2 separate regions of the Homo sapiens genome follow, and region 2 is linked to region 1. The links come from fine-mapping of genetic effects on gene expression. A gene starts in region 1. The other region holds a variant in brackets. All regions are shown on one strand. Distances are from middle to middle. Region 1 holds the start of TARBP2 (TARBP2 subunit of RISC loading complex). Region 2 holds the start of PCBP2-OT1 (PCBP2 overlapping transcript 1).

Region 1 (8,610 bases):
TGACACACAGTGGCCGGCTGGGTGGACAGTTCCACCAGGCACTGGCAGAGTCCACTCAGGCTCAGCTCCTCTGGAGAGCAAGAGAGAGGAGGGAGGCAATGTTGGGGGAGGTAGCCCTGGGGAGGGGTGCGTTCACGTTATCATCACCCCCTTCTACTTGCTCCGGTCCAGCCCCCACCATCCCCTGGCTCGCTCCCCAGCTAGCCATACCAATATCCAGGTAGCTGACGTGAAAGGCCTGCTCCTCAGAGAGCTCACTGAGGACACGGCAGCAGGCAGGGCCCAGGGCACCCAGGGAGCCCAGGGAGCAACTGCGGAGGGACAGGATCTTCTCTCCTACTGAATTTCGTAGAGAATCCCAGGTGCAACCTGGGCCCCGGTTTCGAAGACCATCCAGGCGGGAGCCCACACCCTGTCAAGATGGGAACAGTGAGAAAGATGAAGCGAGAGACTGTGGGACCCAGGCATTGAGACATTCAACGTCAAAGGAGAACAAAGCACAAAGAATGCTTCCTCCAGCTTGCCTCCCCCCAGTCAATCCCTGGGTGGCCCCTTCTAACTACCAGGCCCTGGGCCAGATGGCCAGGGATCCCTCCTCACCCCAGTAACAGAGCTACAGAGCGGGCCTACAGTCAAGGCTGAGTCGGCCCCAGGAACCCTGGGTCTGGTAGGAAAACTGTGGCAGAAGCAGACCTAGGGCCCAGAGAGGCTCACTGCTGAGTCACAGACCCAAGTCCCTGGAGCCCTGCCCTGGCATGGAGGATGGGCCACGGTGCCCGGCCCACATGAGCCACTCACAATGGAGAAGTGGTCATCATCAGGCTCCACCTCATTGCCATCCCGGGCATCCAGAGGCACCGTGTGCACTCGAAGCAGCATTTTGGCCGCCGCATTCCGCTTTGCCAATTTTTTGGAAGTGCCACTCCCTGCATGTGGAGAGAGGGCTGCTGGGTTATGATTCCCCACAGACCCAGTGCTTCCACCCAGGTCATACTTGGATTGAGGGTCCCCCCAGAATGTCAACTGGAAAGGGGAACTCAAGACCTGCCCATGCACGTGAGAACCTGGTCAGCCAGAGAGAAGGGGACAAATAGGGTGCCAAGAAGCTAAAAGGAAGGGGCTGAGCTAGGGACTGTGAAGCTAAGAGAGCAGGGGGTGTAGCAGAGTGAGGCCAGGAGCTGCTTTGTGGCTGGGGCCAGAGTGCTGCGGGAGAGGAGTTGTGAGAACCCCTTCTTGCCCAGTTACCAATCTCAATGAAACGCTCCACTCGACAGGTCATGGTGAATTCTTTGCGGTGGGCTGGCCCAGACTCCTGGGTCACTGTGTACTCCGGCAACCGCCAGCCTTTCTGCACCACCAGCTCCTTGGAAGGGAGACACAGGGTGCATGAGGCTGAGTGAAAAAAGGCTTCTCACACCCACGCTGGTCCCCACGCAGGAGCCTCAGACTCTAGGTGAGAGGAAGGAGAGAGGGGGGTGGAAAGGGCCTCAGTACAAGGAACCGCCCCCACCCCCAAACACACATAGCCTTCCCTCATGGCCCCTGGCTCAAGGGAAGACAGGCATGCATGGGAAATGAGGATGGGACACACCTGCAGAGCACCAACGGGGTTGCACTCAGACTGCTGAGGGGAGACAGGGGGCTGCAGTTCCATGGGGGGGCTCCTGAAGGAAAAGGCACAGGGCCAAAGTTGAGGTGAAGGGTTCCATCTGAGCCTGCCCATGAGCTCCAAACCTAACCACTACTTTAGATTCCTGACTACCATCTCCCGATTCCACCGGGTGGGGAGCTGTCTGTCCACACATCTAGCCTGCTCCTCCTGCTCTAGCCGGCTTCCTTCCCCCTCCCACTCAAGGGAGGCCTTCTCCAGGCCCCAGCCCATTTCCATTCTGGAACACTTGGGTATCATCTAAGCCAGGACAGTGGGAGAAGAGCTGTATTTCCAGTCCCAGAAGTGCCTGATGGGCCTCAAACACAGAACTGACATGTGGTCAACCCAGAAGAAAATGGGGCCTGCAAGACCCTTAAACATGGTCGGACATCATTCATAAGGCTGTCTGAAAATCACAAATGACCTCTTGTCCCAAGAGCTTACCAGCTGCTGTGATTTCTTCAAGTTCTGGTTCCCAACTATTCCATTCTGTTTATTCTCAGACTTCCTCATGCCTGACCAGCTTGGGTCCAAGGACTGAGGGACCAAAAACCAGAACCCCTTCCTCCACCCACCTCAGGCAGTCAGGGGACACAGATACCTGGTTAGGACTACAGATGGAACTGGGGTAGCAGCTGCTGCAGCAGTAAAAACCGGAATGTCCTCAGGCAGTGAAGAGTCTAGGGGAGAAAAAGAACTTCCCGAGGGGAAGGGGGCCTTTGATTCACACCCATGTATAGGGGGAAGAGAGGGGTGGGGGACCCACGTCCTCCTGACCTCCCAATCCCCTAAGAGAACTTCCAAATTGAGCCAAAGAATCAGGGAGGCTCAACCAACAGCTTCCTCCTCGGATCCTTTGCTGCCAAACACCGGCGAAAAGACTGAGAAAAGAGAGTCTCAGAGAAGAGGGTATCTTTGTACCCAAGAACCAGAGGAGCAACAAACTCCAACCTGCGCGTGAAGGAAGGACATCTTGCTAGAACAAGGAGGTATGTTGGGGAGTAACTCCCTTTAGCCTCAAGCCTCTACCCCTCTCCCTCCCTAACCCAGGCCCCAACCTACTGCCACAACCCCTCTATGGGGCTAACCAACCCCTCCACCCCAAGAATTCTTCATAGCAGCAGAAGCCCTGGAAAACCCTGTTCAGGTCCAGAGGGACTCTCAGGAAGAGGCCAGGTCAGGGTGGCTAAGTGTCACCTGGCCAGGCCTCGGGGCAGAGTGGGTGGTGCAGGGCCTGGGTTCCTTGAAGGGCTTCTGGGATGCCTCGGTTCCTCCCTCACCTGCTGTCCTCCAGGGCCGGCTCCAGCATGCTCCCCCCTTTGAGGTGTTTGAGGGCCACCTCAGCTGCCTTGTGCTTGGCTGCCTTCTTGCTGGGGCCCTGACCTGAGAGAGGGGGCATGGGCAATACTGGAGGTCACTGAAAGGACGGGAAAGAAACCAGCATCCCACAGCCTCTCTCCTCGTAGCCAGAGGGAATCAATCAAGCCCCTTCTGACCAACCTCCCCCTGCTGAAGACTGGAAGTGTTTCACTAATTGCTGGAAGGAAGAGCCCTTATCTTTCCGTTAGCTTCCAGAATTAAGCCATGCCAAGCAGGACTTCTGAGCTCAAACGCCTTGGGTGGACTTCTGAGCGCAAATGCTTTAATTTCCTTTGCAAAGCACTTTCTTTTCCCTCAATAAATACAGAGAGCTGGAATAAGAGAGGGTAGGCTCTGGAGTAAAAGCCCCACTCTGCCACATACTAGGCATGTGACCATGCACCAGCCATTTACTATCTCAAACACTCAGTTTCCTCATATTCAACATGGGCGGGCGGGGGGAGGAGTCGGGGGGGCGGATACTACCACCTACAATCATTGGTTAGACTGAGGTTTAAAATTAAACGGGAATTTGGTTAAGCACCGGGAACAGAGCCCAGCACGCCAGGCACTCACTCCCCCAAATACTCCACTGGGATTTCAGTTATCTTCTCTTACTTTTCCTCTAGGGTGATGGGGATCTGCCAGATCACTGTGGGAGTCCTGCTCGCTCCTCTAACTCTCCCACGTCCTACCCACCTTCTTACAGCCCTGTTCTCCCAATCCAGTCAGTAGCTTTTCCCCTGAAATCTCTCCTTCCCTCACTGGCCTTGGAGAAAAGGACTGTGAAGAGAGAGACTCCAAGAAACAAAGCCATGGGGACCTGCAAATGCACACCCCAGCCAGGCTGCCCAAGCCTTCCTCACCAGTGCAGCTGGTGTCGCCAACGGTGACCCGGAAGGTGAAATTAGGCTGGTGGGCTTGGCCCTCGGCTTTGAGAAGGTCGTACACAGGCGTCTTCCCTATTCTGGTCCCATACTCCTGCAGAAGGCTGATCGGGGTCTTGCCTGGGTTGGCGGCCAGCATTTGCTCTATACTGGGGGAAGGGGCACAGACCCACATCACACCTCCCCTCTCTGCACCCACCTAGCCAAGCACTTCCATACCAGACCTAGGCACATTATGGGGGACATAGGGTCCAAGGAACCCCAGACAGTCTAGCATCCATTGGCTGGGTTCCAAGTGGAGGTGCAGGCTGGAAAAGTAGGGCCCACTACCCCAAAGCAAGGGGGGAAGAATGCATTGCTCCTGCCTCAGTTAAGGTGGGCACGATCCTGTGCCCCAATGCAGGTTGAAAGTGCATACCCCCTGACACAGTGCAAGCCAGGAACCCAGTACCCACCAAATGCACTGAATGTGGGGGCATAAAGCCCAGTGTTCCAGTGCAGTCTGGGAACCGGGCCAACCCCAAACTATTTAGAGCTGGAGGCAGCAGCCACTGCCCCGGTGCACGCCGGGAACCACTGCCCACTGCCCCAGTGCTTGCCGGGAACAACCCTCAGGCCAGGTGCATGCTGGGGCCGCGCCGCTACTCCCTCCGCACGGCCCCACGCTTTTCGCCCTGAAGGAATCGGTACGAGACGGCTCACCTAGGCAGCCCGCAGCCCGTGGTAGTGCCGGAGCCTTGCTCCTCTTCACTCATTCCCTCCTCCGTCCCCGCGGGCGCCACCGTGACTGCAGCCTCCACGCGCCCCAATACACAGCCGACGAGCTAGGGCCGGGGCCAAGCCCGGAGTCGCGGCCGGTAGGGCCCGCCGCGGGGCACGCTGGGATATGGAGTCCCCCGCCCACCCTACTTCGTGAGCCTCCATCTGGAGGGGAGCTATCCGCCCCACAACCCTCTGCGTGCGTGGCTCGCCCGGGCAGGCTGCACCGCCTTCTGGGAGGAGCGGGCCCTCCGCCGTCGCTTCTCGAGAAGGCCGTATTTTTTTGTTTGTAATACCGTCCCGCCTCCTTCCTTCCGCGCCCCCTCTCTCCCGGTCCGTGAAGCTGTGGACATGCGTACTAGCGGAGGGGAAGCCGCTGGGTAGGGAGGCGGTAAGGACTCACTTGGGCACGGAGCCTTTTGGATCGCGAGAAAACTACAGAACCCAAGAGCCCGCGCGCCATCTGTGTCGCAGCTGGAGAGGCAGGGTCAAGCACGCACGAGAAGCTTCATGGCGTCATTGGTTACTCCCATTGCGATTACTTCCCCTAGGTGCACTGAGATTGGTTACTTCGACTAAAGGGGCGGAGACAAGGAAAAGTCAGCCCCCCCCGACCCCGCCTCCTTGATGAAGGAAGGTTGTGATTGGTCCGGAGAGGCTGCCGTCGGATCCTGGCTCTTTGCGGTCTGGGAGGGTGGGCCTTACCTAGACGCCGGAGGGGACCGATCTCTGTTTCCGCAGGGCTCTGGAGCTGGTGCAGGTTTAAGTCCGTCTCAGACAGTCCCCTCAACCCACAGCCTAAGCCCCTTGCCCTTGGGCCTCCGTGACACAGAACTTGCTTCCTTTTCCTAGGTCGTCCTTCACCTCCCTTCAGGTGTTGCTTCTTTTGTGAAACCTTTTTAGAACCGCTCTAGTGAACCTCTCTTTAACTGGCGAGGAAACCTCTGGGGCCTGATAATCAGGCTGTAATGTGGGACGACAGGATTAGAAGGACTAGGCACCTTGGTGGTCTTGTTCCCTCTTCCATGAGTCTTGGGTCTCTCAGCTGAAGAGAGCAAAAGTGAATTTTGGCCGCCTAAGATTAATCAACTGATCTGGGTGTTGAGCAGACGCGCATTGTTTAGTCCTAGAGCCCCATTGCCTCCTCCCCCAAAGTTGCACAACCACTGGGCTGAGGGAAATCTTGTGACCTTGGAGAGAGAAAGGGAGAGACCACATTAAAAAAAAAAAAGGTTCTAATGAGTGTTCTGAGAAGGGGTCAAGAAAGATGTCTTACTCTGAGCCGGGGTTGGAGGTCCAGAGGAATCTTGAAATGATAATGAGGGGTCATCCAGGAACACTGGAGGAGGATGGGGCCTAGAGCCGAGTGAATTCCAAGTGGGTGAAATTGGAGTGAGTGGTGACAATCAAGGGAAGGAGAGCTGGCAAGATCGGTATGATAGGGGGAGCAATGCCAGAGCGCTAGGGATCCCAACTGAGGGGCTGCTCTCTCCGATGTAGAAAGGAGTCTATAAGACGGGTCATAGGGGGTTCCTGTGGAATCAGCCTGAGGCCTGAGGTGGGACCTCCATAGGACACCGCCAGCAGGGAGGCGCGGGGCCCAGGCGGGCCAGGTACGAGCCTGGAGCGCGCCGGATGGCAGCAGCGGGCTCCTTTAAGAGGCCGGCGGCTCCATCGCAGCATCCCCCGCTCAGGGCGTGTCCGTCCCGGGGGGCCAGGGGCGGGGGCCCTGGAAGGAGCGGGAGTTCAAGCCGAGCAGGGACGGGGCTAGGGGTCGGGGGGTGGGGGCAGAAAGCTGAAGCTGACACCCGTGCATCCGGACACCGCACGAGCATCGCCTGTGACAGCGCCCCGGGTCCGGTGGAGGGCAGCGGGGGGAGGAGGGAAGGAGGAGGAGAAGGAGGAGGAGGCGGGAGCAGCATCCGGAGCGGAGCTGCAGCAGCGCCGCCTTTTGTGCTGCGGCCGCGGAGCCCCCGAGGTGAGAGCCTGGCCGAGTTGTGGGGGGGTGGGGGGCAGGGATGGGTCTGGGTCCTGGGATCCGGGCGTGGAGGGAGGGTCGGGATGCAGATGTGGCCTGGTGCGGGGTGATGGCGTGGGGATGCTGAGGCTGTGGGGATGGAGGAACTGGGGACCTGGACCCGACGCCTGTGGGGCTGGGAAGGAAGGGAATGGAGCGGAGGGATGCCGCGGCCCAGCTTGGAGACGAAGGGCCTCCAGAGCTGGAAAGGACCGTATTGGGGTGGGGTGGAGGATGATTGGGGGACAGACTTAAAGGACAGAGGGCAAGAGAACATCTCCTCCCACTCATCCTCAGGAAGAGAGAGAGGGAAGGAGGAGGGAGAGTTTTGGCCCCCTCTAGGGAAGGAAAGGAAGGGCAAGGACTGATATACCCACCATCTCCACACACACACACACACACACACACACACACACACACACACACACACACACACACACACACACACACACACACACACACACACACACACACACACAGCAGGCTGGACCTGAAGATTAGTCAGAGAGCACCTGTTCCTGCATGCCCAGGCGTTGGTCCCCCTCCCCTTCAAGCTGTGATCCTCCTAATCCCCTCCAGCTGTGGCATTCACCTCCAGCTGTGGCATTCACCTCCATCCAGCTGTTGCATCCTCCCCTCCCCCATTCACGTGTGGGTTTCTCCCTCCTCTTTCTCTCCATCTCCTCTGGCTCCCCTAACCCATCTCCCCCAGTCAGGCCCTCCAAAAACCTCCTCCCTTTCCCACAAACACTCCTCAAACTCATTGGCTTAAAAATAAACAAGAGTTGAGACTTGCTGGTAACCAAGGCCTTGACTGAGAGGAGGGAAGAGTCAAGGCTCTGTAGACAGTGGGAGGAAACAGTGAGGTGTCCCTTAGAATTAAGGGAGGAGTCCTACCTTGTAGATGCTCATCTGCTGCCTTTTTCAGAGGAGCGTAGGTGAGTGGCCTCCAATCAGAAGGGAGTGCACATGAGGTCTCCTCACCCCACCCAGAGTCGTCTCAAGCCACAGTCAGTGCATCCCTCTAAACACATTTCCCTTGCAGTTCTCAAGGTGGACTCCATTGCTCTAGGAGCTCTGAGTTTCAGCCAGAGGGTCCTACCAAGCTAAGGCTAACAGAAAGGATTTAGGAAGGATAGGACTCAAGTGCCCCCTGAGCCTTCCTGTCCAGACACTGAAGTTTCTCTGAGCTTTAGGGCCCCACTCCCTCCTATCTCACACTTACAGGTGAAAAAAAGTGTGTCCCCTCAAGCGTATCATTCATCCACTCACTCCCATTGTCAACTGGGGTAATGTTAGGAAAACCCCAGCTCTCAACATGGAGACACCAGCTAAATATCCATCCCAGTTATGGACAGAGGAGGCAAGAAGTTAGACATGGCTCAGGATTTCCTAGGCTTCCTTATAGCTGAAGAGGGCAGAACCCTTCTAAAAACCAATTGCTTTTCCCCTCGTGGTGACACTGTGGTAGGATCAGGCTTTTCTAGGAAGAGGACTCTTGGTTCTACCACTCACAGCCCGGACTCTCGTAATGCACAGTCCTCCCTCTCCCCTGCCTGGATCTGGAGAGAAAGAAGGAATCAACCCTGTAAGAAGTCCTTGCTAGGGTGGACTGGAGATCACCCCTACATTCAGGTCCTCAGCCCTACACCAGTCAAGCCCTGGGACCCCCAGCTGCCATGCTTCTTCCAGTGAGGTGGAAATGTCTGCCCCTCACGCCAGCCACTCATGCATTCACTCACACTGTTGACTGAGGTGATGCTGGGAAGAAGGAGGATACTGTTGAGATGATGCCAGCAGGGGACATAGGGGCTTCATGAGGGCCTGGCCACAGAGACTGGTCTGTCTGGTTCATTGGCTCCCAGAAGGACTGGGGTCATATGTGTGCGTGGAGAAGGTGAGGAGACTGTGACAGTGACCAGATTCCAGAGGAGGCT
Region 2 (8,000 bases), 38 kb after region 1:
TTTTTTTTTTAATCATTACCCCAATAGCCTTTCACCTCTGGAGAGCTGGATTCAATGCCTGTTAAGATACAAGTGAAAATGAGTTTGGTGGTCTCATCCTAACCCTATCGGACAAGTTATTCCTTATACAGAAAAGCCCCAAAAACGAAACAAAATAAAAACAAAAACAAAAACAAAAAAAACACTACACAATTTGGCACAAATGGATGGTCTCTACCCAAGCCTGTGAATTGCTGGTGGAGAGAAAGGGGGTGCTGATCAGATCAAGGGGGCAGCAGTCAGGATGGGCTCAAAGAAATATCAGCCTACCCTTTGCCTGACAAGCATCCCCAAACCTCACCCCCAAACCTTCCAGGGCTTTTTTTTTCTTTTAGAATAACTGACCCCAAATGAAAACCACGTTAACAAACACATTACCTCCTTGGGCTTAGCCATAGTAGACAGGCAAGTTTAAACCAGCAGGATGCTGGATAACGAAGTTTGTTTTAAACAGATGTCAAGCTGAGACCTTGGGACTGGCCTCTCTCTTGCACTACACCTTACAGAAATAAACACTGAGGTATCCATACCACTGAATCCGGTGTTGCCATGCGTCATGGGAAAATGAGACTGTTGCATTGCCAACTGGTGCAGCTTGGTCAACTGCAAGGAGGAAACAGGAGGTTGGCATTAGAAGATTTAACAGAGCCAGGGCTCAAGCACATTCGAATTTGAAAATGCAGGTCCTGATTCCCAAAATTGACTCTACTACTCAAACTACAACAGAGGGTAGGGATGGGGCTTGCATCACAATCCTGGGGATTGGCAGAATATGAAGGGTAAGGGTTAGAAATAGAATGGGTGCCTGGAAGAGAATGAATGCCTTTTGGGTGTGGGAATAGAAAAGCAACAGCACTTGCCCAACGACCATCCCCCTTGGAGGCTACTTAATGAAGGTAGTTTGCAGCCATTGCAACAGTTGCCGCAGGGACAAGCACAGACAGGCTAGGTAAACAAACTGTGCAGTGGTGCTAGGGAAAACACACCATGCAGGGTTTCATCAGTATTGGGGAGAGGGAAGGAGATGAGGGGGGCAGGGAGACTGCAAGGAGGAGAGAGGTGAAGAAACCATACTGGGTTTAGTCCCATCACCGCCACCACTGACTACTACAGCTATTTTTATTCATCTATATAAACTGTCCTGACTGTCATAAAATAATCCTTCTTCACGTCTACTTCCCTCTCTCCTGGGGCCTACCACTAACCAAGACCGAAACTCAACTTCCCAAGTCTAATAATGCTCAGCACCTGAAAAGGTTAGTAAGGATAAAAGAAAAGTGCAGAAAAAAATGCCCTTGAAGTCTAAATACCGGCACTTTTAAATAGGAGGTTTTAGCAGCAAGAAAGGTTTGAGTTGAATTCTGAAATGTTCAGGTTCCTATCCCTCTCTGTGTAACATAAGCCCCTTCCCCATCCCTCCAAATACTTTTCAAATTGTCATCTCAGATTGAGGAGTTCCCAAGGGCAAACCCAACCTCCCATTACCCTCATGGAAAAGAGAACTGCATGCAAGGAAGCACAGTCCCAATGTCAATTTAAACTATGCCCTGAGATAACAAATCACAGTATACCATGGAACATTTCCCTTTTAGAAACAGGGTAATCTGAAACACAGGGGGAAAGGAGAAGCTAATGTGCTGAATTAAATTTCAGGGGTTAAATGTTAAAAGGCAAACAAGGCATTACCCTGATTAAAGGGCTAAAATATGGGATTGACCTTGTGAAGAAAACAACTTAATACTGCAAATGCTGAAGACCCAACTCACTTCTGGCTACTTGGGAGAGAGGAGTGAGACAATTTTGGATGGGAGAGGGAGCTTTTCAAAACAAGAAGTGAAAACAAAACTTACATCTGGCTGTGGAATGGCATACTGTCCTTGAATGGTATAGGCCTACAAAAGGAGGAAAACAGTTCCTATTAAAAACCAATCACGGACAGCCACCCAGTGGGGGGAAAAAGACATTTCAACTAGCCAGGAAGCCAGAGTTGAACTAGAGAATGGGGGAGGCCAGAGATTGAGGCAGTAGATGGAATCTCACAAATATGGTCAGACCCAAATTGGCCTTCTTTGAACCCTAAATATGACTTTGTTCCGGGGAATCCTATAAAGGTAGCCAAGTTCCCTGCAATCAAAGGCAAAATATACATAACTGTTTCTTAATGAAAATGTGGGAAGTGAGATTAGCAATGCCTCGACTGACCAAGCCCCACTCTTCCTCCCTGTATACAAGATAGCCTAGGAGGAATAATGATCTCTTCCCTCACCACCCCAACCCTTCTACCAATTGTGGTGATGTGGAAGATCTCTAACTGCACAAACCTACATGGTATGTTTTAAAACACTTCCCTTTCTCCAACTTATTTCTCTATCTGCCTAAAGACCTTAAGAACACTGGATGCTAGCTGAGTCCCTAACAGTAGGGAGCTGATCACAGGTAAACAAAAACCACTGGGTTCTAATTCCTGTCTTCTCCCACCTCCCCTCCATAGGCATTTGCAGCTCCCACTATGCCCTCCTCCCCCCCACAACATAACCTCCCAAAAAGGGAGCTGGGTCTTCAGGGCAATGGGGTAGGGAAAAGGAGGAAAGGAAAAGGGAACAGGGAGGGAGGGGATGGAAGGAGTGGCTGGTTAACAGGATGTGAAGTTTCTCACATCACAGTGGCCAGTACCCCCAAAAGTACACCCAGGTGGGGGTGGAAGGAAGGTGAAAATGGGGTGGGAGGAGTGGGAGAGGGGAAGAGGGGTTGAACAAAAAAAAAATTAAAAAAAAAAAAAAAGTTGGTGTTACCATCTGGTGGGCTACGCGGCCTGGGTGAAATGAGGTTGGGGGGGTCAGTCCAGGTCCCCGTGGACAGGTGGTGTCCACAGCACCAAAAATCACCAGCGCCACTGGCCCCCCGTGTGTTGGCAGTCTCGGCTGAGGCGGAAGGATTGAGTGAGCCTTGGAGACTGAACATCCCCTCTCACCTCTAGAGGTGGTCCCTCCAGGTCAGGGTTGAGGCACATGGACGGGGTGGTGTGGGGAAAGCTCGCACTGTCGCTGCCTGTGCTGTACCTGTCCTGTGGATAAATAGAGGATTTCAGTCTCCAGGGCTGTCAATCCGGCACCTTGTCACCAGCATGAAATTCACACAAAAAAAGTTGTTTATTTTTTTCCTTTTTCCTTTAAAAAGGAGCTCAGACACAATTTGAAACGAGCTGTAATCAGTGAATTAAAAAAAAAAGTTACCTAGTGGCAGATTTCACACTGCACAATTGGGCTATTTTCAATAAGAATGAAGGGGTGGGGCAACAGAGCTGATGCCAGCTCCTGGTCAGTGTGGGATTAAGTTGAACCCCTACAGAGCCCACTTTGCCACAAAGGAACAAAAGACACAGGTCCATCTGTGGACATTGTATATTTAAAAAGGCCTGTGGGAACAATCCATGACAGGGCCACTCATAGAAGAAGCTGCAAATTTTTAGACGGTGGTCATCAACTAAATAAAGGGGAGGGAGGGAGGGAGGGTGGGTAGGGAAGCAAAGAGGTATGAAGGGGGAGGTGTGATGGGGAGTGGAAAAAAAAGGAAGTGAAGGAAGAATTTTAAGTACAGAGGATTGCTGCCACCCAGTATGGGACTCTATTCCAAAGGGGGAGTGGGAGAATCCAGAAGAGCAGGAACCTGGAGTTCCTGGGAAAGAAAAACTCCTAAGGCTAAATCCTTCTGGCGACACTGACTCTGGGCCTTTGCTTATCCTGCCCAACTCTGACTAACTAGACTGAGAGCCCTTTGAACAAACCAGTTTGTACTTTTCTAAAAGCAAGGTACTAAACTGACTCAAGGTTAACACTGTGACATAACCGACCTTCCTGTGAAACCTCTCATAACTACACGACAAACTAAACCTCTAAAAACTTGTTCATTTTTATGCCAATTCAACACAATGTGAAAGAGATGGACTCCCAAGTTTATGCTTGCCCTCTAAATGGCTCCCAGATCAAACGCAGGTAAGATGGAACTAGTTAACTAAATATGCTTGTAACAGACCAGCCCCAAGTGGGAAAAGGTGTTTTGAGCAACGCACTTGCTTAGGCAGCTACCAAAATCAGTCACTATTTCAACCTGAATCCCAATGCAGTTGTCCCTAGGTGTCCCTACGTTATTGGTGGGAGATTAGTCCTAGGATTCCCCCCATAGAAACAAATATCCATGGATATTCAAGTCTTTTACATAAAATGGTATAGTACTTGCATATAACCTAAGCATATCCTCCCACATATTTTAATCATCTCTAG[G/A]TTACTTATAATACCTAATACAATGTAAATACTATGTAAATACTTGTTATACTCTATTGTTTAATGACAAAACAAAGCCTGTACATGTTCAGTACAGATACAACCACCCATTTTTTTCCCTGAATACTTTTGATCTGAGGTAGGTTGAAGGTGGAACCCACAAAGGGCCAACTGTATTTTAAAACCTGATCTACCTACTCCTCAAATACAATCAGAGCATAGGACTACCATGGTCCTTCAATGCTTCTGTCATAATAATCTAACTTCAGAATAGTCCACGTGCCAAAGATCAAGAGTTTAGGTTGATGAGGAAGGAGCAGAGAGGCCACGGTGGTGCTTTGGTGTTCTTACTCTAACACCAAAGGTCACGGCACCACAGCCCAACATGCTCACCCCCCTTCTATTCTTGCACACTGAACTCTTACCCCAGCTGATTTCAGTTATGCCATGTGGGTTCAAACCAGTGTTTATGAGGTTAAGAGCCTAGGGGACAACACACTGGAGTTTGGGAGTGAAGGGGTAGGAGTAGGGGAGGTGAGGTGGAGGGAAGGGGAAGTTTGTAGGACACTCAAATTCAGGACCCCCAAATTTTGAGACCACCATCCAGAATCTCCTTCAGAGGTCCAACTCTTTGCTACCTTTTATTTAGACCTCTAAATATCACCCCACACACATAAAACATGGATGGGGTGGGGACAGGGAGAGAAGTAGAGACAGTAAGTCAATTCAACTCTTATATTCTAACCCAACCCACAAGTAAGTTACCTCTTCCGAGTGCCTACAAAACTTCCATTGCCTGCTAAAAATTAAGGCATTCAGCTTTCTCCAGTACAAAAATAAAACTAAAAGCCGGTCAAACTATGGCCAGAGTATAGGTTTCAGCAAGCATGCAGAGTGGCTTGGTGTGATGCTGGCAAAGTTGACATTTCAAATATAATCTCTGTTCATTCTAGCCCACAAATGAGAATTTTCTTACCTGACCACCTGCAAAGATGACCGGAGAGCTGGACGGCTTGGGCCGGTACGGGATGGTCACGCCCTTCGGGGGGGACTGGGAGAGAGTCAGAGGGGAAAAAAACAAAAAGAGATAAGGTTTCAAAGCTGCTTCAGCTGTGTGGCTTTAGCTCACACAGGTCAGTTAAATTAAAAACTATTTCCATCCCCTTACCTACCAAATTGTCTCTGGCTAGATCTAATCTCAATTTATCTACTGAAAGTTATTTGCCTTTAATGCAGTAAGTCCAAGGACTACACAATTCAAACTGATTCTCATCAAGGGAGATGTCCATGTAATAATCTTCGGCACTATTTCCAAAATTTTAGATAAATTTAATGGACATGAAAAACTGTTAAACGTATATTTTTGTTGATAATTTTTAGTATCTCACATTTTTTTGGCCTGAATAGGAAATAAGGTCAAAACTGCAAATAAAGTACTCAAGTGTTATGTCTAGAATAATACAGACACTATCTATAAATAGTTCAAAGGCTCAATCAAGGTTTTTCTAATCTCTACTTGAAAATTCCAGTTTCCAGGTTGGGTGCATCGGCTCATGCTGGTAATACCAGTACTTTGGAAGGCTGAGGCGGGTGGATGGCTTGAGCTCAGGAGTTCAAGACCAGCCTGGGCAACATGGCAAAATCCCGTCTCTACAAAAAATAAAAAAAATTAGCCAGGTGTGGTGGCGCATGCCTGTAGACCAAGCTACTGGGGAGACAGGTGAGAGGATCGCTTAAGCCTGATAGGCAGAGGTTGCAGTGAGCCGATACTGCACCACTGCACTCCAGTCTGGGTGACAAAGTGAACCCGTCACACACACACACACACGAAAAAATTCGTTTCATTTCTCACCAATGAAACCAACTCCATATCACAAATCTGAAAAGGCTTAATTTTCCTGAATTTTGCTATTCTTTTAATAGAATAATAGTGTATAATCAGGACCTTGTAAGTCATTCGGAAACATCATCATACATACATTTTTCTACTCTATGTAACACTTTGAATACCCTCCTACAAAGTGACAAGTTGTTAAAGAACATGTCAAATTTCCATGTAACCAAAATACAGTAATTCAAAAAGTAATTTAACTCAGCTACTCAGGAACTCAAATAAATCTCTGGCCTCCTTAGTCCATGCAGTGCATCTTCTCCCCGACTCTGCTACAACTGCTGTGAACCAAAAGATCACTGCTGCTTAGCAGTTTCTATTTTTGCTCACAGACCATAAGAAAAGTCAAAGCTAGGGGAAGGAAAATATGAACTCAGGGAACCTTTTAGCCCCACCCCCACTGGAAGCCTTAACAGCCTCACTTAATTCTAGTCTTACTAAATATAGATCAGTCCCTCTGTCCCCAGAATGGCCCTCCCCCCATTTTCAGCATGAGCCTGAGGGCTTACCTCCAACATGACCACGCAGATCTGTTTGACACACTCAATGATGGATTGTGGAATGCCAGCAATAGTGATGGCCCGCTCAGTTGAGTTGGGTAGCATATCCCCTGCCACCTGGACCTGAGCCCCTGTACTCTTTGGAGTAAAAAGAAATTCAAAATCAGAGAAAAACAGTTCATGCTCTTCCAATTCCTCCAGCAGCAATTTCAGAGCCTAAAACTCTAGTAGATATTTATCCATTTCCAATCTTCCCTTTTTGTTCTTTGTCCCACTCTTCCCTTATTCCAGATAGGACTGTTTAGTGAATTAGAGTTAAAAATAAATTAGCCACTGAAAGACAAGAATAAGCGTGAATAACAGCCTAAATTTAACCTACTCTCAAGCAAAAGGTCCTTCTAAATAGTTGCCTTTCAACTAATGATAGTTCTCTGGGCGAAGCAAAAGCCCCACAAGTATCACCCACCTTTCATTATGTTACTGAAAAAATATTTACATCAAGGCCATTCTATGTGCCAGGTACCATGAGAAGTGCTTCGAATATAGCAATTAACAAAATTAAGATCTCTGTCGTGCCATGTACGATACGCTCCCAAAAACTCAAGCAGCCATTCGAGTTTCATTCCAACACCAAATTCAGTAACATCTAGATACAATTAAAATCTTCCATAATTCAACGTAACTTCCATAGTTAAACAGGAAGTAGGGGCCAGGCACAGTGGCTCACATCTGTAATCCGAGCACTTTGGGAGACCAAGGCAGTCGAATCATCGGAAGCTCAGGAGTTGGAGACCAGCCTGAGCAAAACAGTGAGACTCGTCTCTACAACAACAGAAAGAAGAAAAATTAGCCGGGCATTGTGGAGCGCGCCTATGGTACCAGGTACTCAGGAGGCTTGAGGTAGGAGGGTTACATGAGCCCAGAAGTCGAGGTTGCAGTAAGCCATGATCACGATTATGCCCTGCACTTCAGCCTGAGTGAGACCCTGTCTCAAAAAAAAAAAAAAAGATGTAGAATTACATCTATTTCCCAATACATCTTCCTATTTTTCTCCTTGTTGTTTATAAGTCTGGTCAAGAAAAATGACGCTGCAGGCAAGCAAGTGTGCTGGCTCAAGCCTGTAGTAATAACACTGGGAGCCTGAGGTGGGTGGATTGCTTGAGCTCAGGAGTTCGAAACCAGCCTGGGCCACATGGCAAAACACCATTTTTACAAAAAAATACAAAAATTTGGGTGTGGTGGTGGGAGCCTGCAGTCCCGGCTCCTTGGGAGGCTGAGATGAGAGGATCG

Evidence for each region. PIP is the estimated chance that this variant, and not a neighbour inherited with it, causes the effect. A credible set is the group of variants that fine-mapping cannot tell apart.
Region 2: its variant is the best candidate, but not a certain one, in a credible set for the expression of TARBP2 in esophagus mucosa (GTEx, PIP 0.90).

What each region holds. Positions count from the first base shown.
Region 1 is chr12:53,497,451-53,506,060 of GRCh38, reverse strand. It overlaps TARBP2 (TARBP2 subunit of RISC loading complex), which reads right to left and starts at 4,778. Exons shown (of 9, transcript NM_134323.2): 1 at 4,600-4,778; 2 at 3,877-4,046; 3 at 2,932-3,034; 4 at 2,253-2,348; 5 at 1,592-1,664; 6 at 1,246-1,363; 7 at 799-926; 8 at 211-412; 9 at 1-70. The coding sequence starts at 4,652. MAP3K12 (mitogen-activated protein kinase kinase kinase 12) reads left to right here and starts at 6,603. Exons shown (of 14, transcript NM_001193511.2): 1 at 6,603-6,634. RefSeq lists an enhancer at 4,844-5,143 and a silencer at 6,237-6,486.
Region 2 is chr12:53,459,863-53,467,862 of GRCh38, reverse strand. PCBP2 (poly(rC) binding protein 2) reads right to left here. Exons shown (of 15, transcript NM_031989.5): 7 at 6,720-6,848; 8 at 5,296-5,370; 9 at 3,011-3,103; 10 at 1,890-1,931; 11 at 570-642; 12 at 20-58. It overlaps PCBP2-OT1 (PCBP2 overlapping transcript 1), which reads right to left and starts at 3,395. Exons shown (of 1, transcript NR_109828.1): 1 at 2,806-3,395. The variant G/A (reference allele first, on the strand shown) is at 4,320.